Linked DNA regions of Homo sapiens: region 1 is linked to region 2. Evidence: fine-mapped expression QTL. Tissue or cell type: whole blood. Region 2 holds a variant in brackets; the other region holds the start of a gene. All regions are shown on one strand. Distances are between the middles of the regions.

Region 1 (2,755 bases), 27 kb after region 2:
TCCAACTCCAGACCTCAGGTGATCTGCCCGCCTCGGCGTCCCAAAGTGCTGGGATTACAGGCGTGAGCCACGGCGCCCAGCCAATTTTTTCATTTTCTTTTTCTTTTTTTCAAGGCCCGGCTAATTTTTTGTATTTTTAGTAGAGACGGGGTTGCACCGTGTTAGCCAGGATGGTCTCTATCTCCTGACCTCGTGATCCGTCCGCCTCGGCCTCCCAAAGTGCTGGGATTACAGGCGTGAGCCACCATCCCCAGCCTAGAGTTCTTGATAGTATCAGGGCTGAGAAAGTACCAGAGTTAGAGCCAGGTGGGGTGGCACTAAAAGTACAAAAAATTAGCAGGGCGCAGTGGCGGGCGCCTGTAGTCCCAGCTACTCAGGAGGCTGAGGCAGGAGAATGGTGTGAACTCGGGAGGCGGAGCTTGCAGTGAGCGGAAATCGCGCCACTGCACTCCAGCCTGGGCGACAGAGCGAGACTCTGTCTCAAAAAAAAAAAAAAAAAAAAAAAAAAAAAAAGAAAGTACCAGAGTTAGGAGGCTCCTAAACTGGTCCAGATGGGAAGTGACGGGGCCAAGGATAGGGAAGTGAAGATGGGAGGAGTAGGACTAACTTAAAGGCCATTTAGCAAAAATTCACCACGCAAGGCCCTATATTAGGGCGCTGGGGGCTCATACCTCATCGTCCCGTCAACTCTATAAAGCAGGGGCCAACAAACTTTTTCCATAAAAGGCCAGATCGTAAATACTTCAGGGTCTGCAGATCTGTAGGATCTTTAGCAACTACCTACTCTGTTGTAAGGCGAAAGCAGGCAGAGAAGCCAGGTAAACGCGTGGGCGTGTCTGTGTGCTAATAAAACTTTATTCAGGGACCCTCAAATGTGAATTTCACAAACTTTTCACAGGTCATAGACTATTCTTCTTTGGATTTTTCCCCCGGCTATGTAAACATGTAAAAATAATTCTGAGCTTGCGGGGCCGGACAAAGTAGGCGGCGGGTCTTGGCTCGCCTACCCCTGCTATATAAATCATTAATTATGATACCAATCTTAAGGAGAAGGTCTTCAGAAGAGTCCCTCAAAGAGCACCGCCCCTCAACGTCATCAAACCCCGCCTCCAAAGGCGGAGGCTGCGCATGCGCGGCAGGACCTCGGGCGGGGGCGGGGCGGGGCGCAGCTCCGACTTCGGACATGGCGCACGCTGGCGGTGGCAGCGGTGGCAGCGGTGCCGGCGGCCCCGCGGGCCGGGGGCTGAGCGGCGCCCGCTGGGGTCGCTCGGGCTCCGCAGGCCACGAGAAGCTGCCGGTGCACGTGAGTGGCGTCCCCGCCCTCCCTCGGGGAACCCATCTTCTGGACCCCGCGGGCGGGCGCCCCTCACCCAGGCCCCGCCCGGCCCCAGCCCCACCTCGGCCTCCCCTCTGCACTGCCCCGGACCCCTCACCCCTCACCTCTCACCTCGGCCCTCCGAAAGCCCAGCCCATCCCCTTCCCCTCAGGGACCCCGGCCCCTCGTCCCCTCGTTCCGCGGCCAGGGCCCACCGGGACCCTCCCCCTCTCTGCAGGTAGAAGACGCCCTCACCTATCTGGACCAGGTGAAGATCCGCTTTGGCAGCGACCCTGCCACCTACAACGGCTTCCTGGAGATCATGAAGGAGTTCAAAAGCCAGAGGTACCAGCGGGGCCCCTCTCCACCTCAGGGGACCCCCCTGGGCCGGAATCGGGCCTAGCGGGGTGAGACCTCCCCTCTCCAGCCTGCCCCCTTAGCCGGGTGACCTTGCGCAGGTTGTCCAATCTCTCAGAGCCCTAGCTCCTTCTCGTAACAAAAATGGAAATGGGTAGTACCCACCTTGTGGAGCTTTGTGGGGATTCCTGGAAGCAGGACAGGGATCTGGGGGGAGGCAGGGAGGGCGAGGCCGTGCACACTCATAGAGTCAAATCCTGCCTTGATTTAATATGTTGATTTTTATATTAGTTTTGTTCATGAAAGATTTGGTGGGACCCATTTTGATTTTTATTTTCAAGCGCTGTAAAATGTTATTGTCTTGATGATTGAAATTTTTGGCACCCTCTTCCCCTTTAATCTTGTCCTCAAGATGCTTCTCTGGGCTCACTGTGGTCCCAGGCCTGCTTGGAAGTAAGACGCATAAAATGCTTAGTAAGGGAGCTGGCACACAGAAAACGTTTAAAACACATGAGATGATTTTGCAGGCCCAGAATCAAGGAAGATTACAGATAGATGGGAAACCCTGGGATCATGCCCTTGTTTTTATAGGAGACTCACTGAGGTTTGGAGTGGGTAAGGGACCCACCTAAGTGGCAGAGGTGTCACTAGAACTCAGACCCTCTGACTCAGATTCTTGGAAGTCACATGCTTACCATACTGCTGCCCCCTCTTAGGAAACATGGTGGGGCTGGCCTGGTTTCCTTCCGGGAGCCCAGTGCTAAGGGCTGGGCTGCAATGCAGCCAGAAGGGAGACCCCATCTCTCCCCTCCTATTTTTCTTACACCTTTCCCATTCTTGGCAGTACCATTGGTATTTATGCATTGCAATTGTTTGCTCAGATGGAAACCTGTGTCATAGTCATCTCTATCTGATACAAAATGAGGGAAGTTTTCACATTGCTTAGAGGACTTTGGCCTCCTGCCATTTCTTGGAGTCCAGGCCTTGCGGTTGGCTCTCCTGACATTTTCAGAACCGAGTACCCATTCTTGGAGTGTTTTAGGGGAGCTGAGCGATGTCAGTATTCTCTGGTTCTCACCAGGA
Region 2 (2,755 bases):
TGAGGTCGGGAGTTCGAGACCAGCCTGACCAACATGGAAAAACCCCACCTCCACTAAAGCAATACAAAATTAGCTGGGCGTGGTGGTGCATGCCTGTAATCCCAGCTACTCAGGAGGCTGAGGCAGAAGAATAGCTTGAACCTGGGAGGCAGAGGTTGCAGTGAGCCGAGATCACGCCATTGCACTCCAGCCTGGGCAACAAGAGCAAAACTCTGTCTCAAAAAAAAAATTAGCTGGATATGGTGGCATGTGCTTGTTGTTCTAGCTATTTTGGGGGCTAAGGTGGGAGGATCGCTTGAGCCTGGGAAGTTGAGGCTACAGTGAGTCATGATCGCACTACTGCACTCCAGCCTGGGTGACAGAGTGAGACCCTGTCTCTAAAAACAAACAAAAAAGCCAGGCGTGATGGCTCACACCTGTGATCCCAGCACTTTGGGTGGCTGAGGTGGGCGGATCACTTGAGCTCAGGAGTTTGAGACCAGACGTCTCTACATAAAAGACAAAAATTAGCTCGGTGTAGTGGCTCACATCTGTAGTCCAAGCTACTTGGGAGGCTGTGGTGGTAGGATCACTTGAGCCCAGGAGGCAGAAGTTGCAGTGAGCTGAGATTGTGCCACTGCACTCCAGCCTGGACGACAGAACAAGACCCTGTTTGAAAACAAAACAACAATAAAAAAAGAAATTTAATCCCCAGTGTTGGAGGGAGGCCTCACGGGAGGTGTTTGAGTCATAAGGACACATCCCTCGTGGATAGATTAATGCCCTCTCCTGGCAAGGCAGTGGTGGTGGTGAGTAAGTTCTAACTCTGTTAGTTCTCGCGAGGTTGTTAAAAAGAACCTGACCCCAGCTACTCAGGAGGCAGAAACAGGAAGATTGCTTGAGGCCGGGAGTTCAAGACCAGCCTGGGCAACATGGACCTTGTCGCAATAAAAATAAAAATAATGGCCGGGCATGGTGGCTCACGCCTGTAGTCCCAGCACTTTGGGAGGCTGAGTTGGGTGGATCACGAGGTCAGGAGCTCAAGACTAGCCTGGCCAACATGGTGAAACCCCATCTCTACTAAAAATACAAAAATTAGCCGGACGTGGTGGCGGGCACCTGTAATCCCAGCTGTTCAGGAGGGAGGCAGGAGAATCGCTTGAGCCCGGCAGGCAGAGGTTGCATTGAGCACCATTGCACTCCAGCCTGGGTGACAGAGCAAGACTCTGTCTCAAAAATAAATAAATAAATAAAAATAAAAATAAAAATAATGAGCTGGGCATGGTGATATTCACCTGTAGTCTCAGCTACTTGAGAGATGGAGGCAGGATGATCGCTTGAGCCCAGGAATTTGAGGCTGCAGTGAACTGTGATTGCACCACTGCACTCCAGCCTAGGTGACAGAGCAAGACCCTATCTCAATTAAAAAAAAAAAAAAAAAAAAAAGGAAGCTAGCACTTCCCTCTCTCTTGCTTCCTCTGGCCGTATGACCTCTGCACACCCCAAC[C/T]CCCTTCACCTTTTGTATTAAGAAGAAGCAGCCTGGGGCCCTCACCAGAAGCAGAAGCTGGCACCATGCTTCCTGTACAGCCTGCAGAACAATGAGCCACATAAACCTCTTATTCATAATTATGCATTACTGTATTAGTCTGTTCTCACACTGCTAATAAAGACATACCTGAGGCCGGGCCTGCTGGCTCACACCTGTAATCCCAGCACTTTGGGAGGCCAAGGCAGGCGCATCATTTGAGGTCAGGTGTTCGAGACTAGCCTGGCCAACATGGTAAAACCCTGTCTCTACTAAAATTCCAAAACTTAGCCAGAAATCGCTTGAACCCAGGAGGTGGCAATTGCAGTGAGCCAAGATCTTGCTACTGCACTCCAGCCTGGGCAAGAGTCAGACTCTGTCTCAAAAAAAAAAAAAAAAAAGACATACCTGAGACTGGGTAATTTGTAAAGGAAAGAGGTTTAATGGACTCACATTTGCACATGGCTGGGAAGGCCTCACAATCATGGCAGAAGGCAAATGAGGAGCAAAGTCACGTCTTACATGGTGGCAGGCAAGAGAGTGTGTGCAGGGGAATTGCCCTTTACAAAACCATCAGATCTCATGAGACTTATTCGCTACCACAAGAACAGTATGGGGGAGACTGCCTCCATGATTCAATTATCTCCAGCTGGCCTCGGCCTTGACCTGTGGGAATTATTGCAATTCAAAATGAGATTTGGGTGGGGACACAGCCAAACCATCTCAGTTACCCAGCCTCAGGTAGTCCTTCATAGCAACACCAACAGACTTAGACAGGCCCCAGCTCCTAATACCATCCTATGGGGAGTGAGGATTTTGACATAGGAATTTGGTGGGGGGGTGGGGACACAAATCTTCAGTCCATAACATTCCTATAACTTCAATCAGGTAGAAAGTAGCTAGTCAAAAACAGGTTTTCATTAGCAACACCAATGAACTAAGACAGGCCCAAGCTCCTGATACCATTCCACAGAGGGTGATGATTTTAACATAGGAATTTGTCAGGGGGACACAAATCTTCAGTCCATAACACGCCTATAACTTCAATCAGGTGGAAACTAGCTAGTCATGGCCAGGTGTGGTGGCTCACACCTGTAATCCCAGAACTTTGGGAGGCTGAGGTGGGCGGATCATTTGAGGTCAGGAGTTGGAGACCAGCCTGGCCAACATGGCGAAACCCCAACTCTACTTAAAAAAAAAAAAAAAAAAAATTATCTGGGCGTGGTGGTGTGTGCCTGTAATCCCAGCTAC

Evidence for each region. PIP is the estimated chance that this variant, and not a neighbour inherited with it, causes the effect.
Region 1: it holds the start of SIN3B, and the variant in region 2 is fine-mapped to the expression of SIN3B in whole blood (TOPMed, PIP above 0.99). The same link has a PIP of 0.9 or more in blood mononuclear cells, monocytes and neutrophils.

What each region holds. Positions count from the first base shown.
Region 1 is chr19:16,828,238-16,830,992 of GRCh38, forward strand. It overlaps SIN3B (SIN3 transcription regulator family member B), which reads left to right and starts at 1,161. Exons shown (of 19, transcript NM_001297595.2): 1 at 1,161-1,303; 2 at 1,554-1,660. The coding sequence starts at 1,184. RefSeq lists an enhancer at 887-1,388 and a silencer at 1,129-1,308.
Region 2 is chr19:16,801,061-16,803,815 of GRCh38, forward strand. The region is part of intron 17 of NWD1 (NACHT and WD repeat domain containing 1); the gene reads left to right. All of the region lies in intron 2 of LOC124904648 (a long non-coding RNA gene), which reads right to left. Among named protein-coding and RNA genes, the nearest start is that of SIN3B, 27 kb to the right of the region's middle. The variant C/T (reference allele first, on the strand shown) is at 1,487.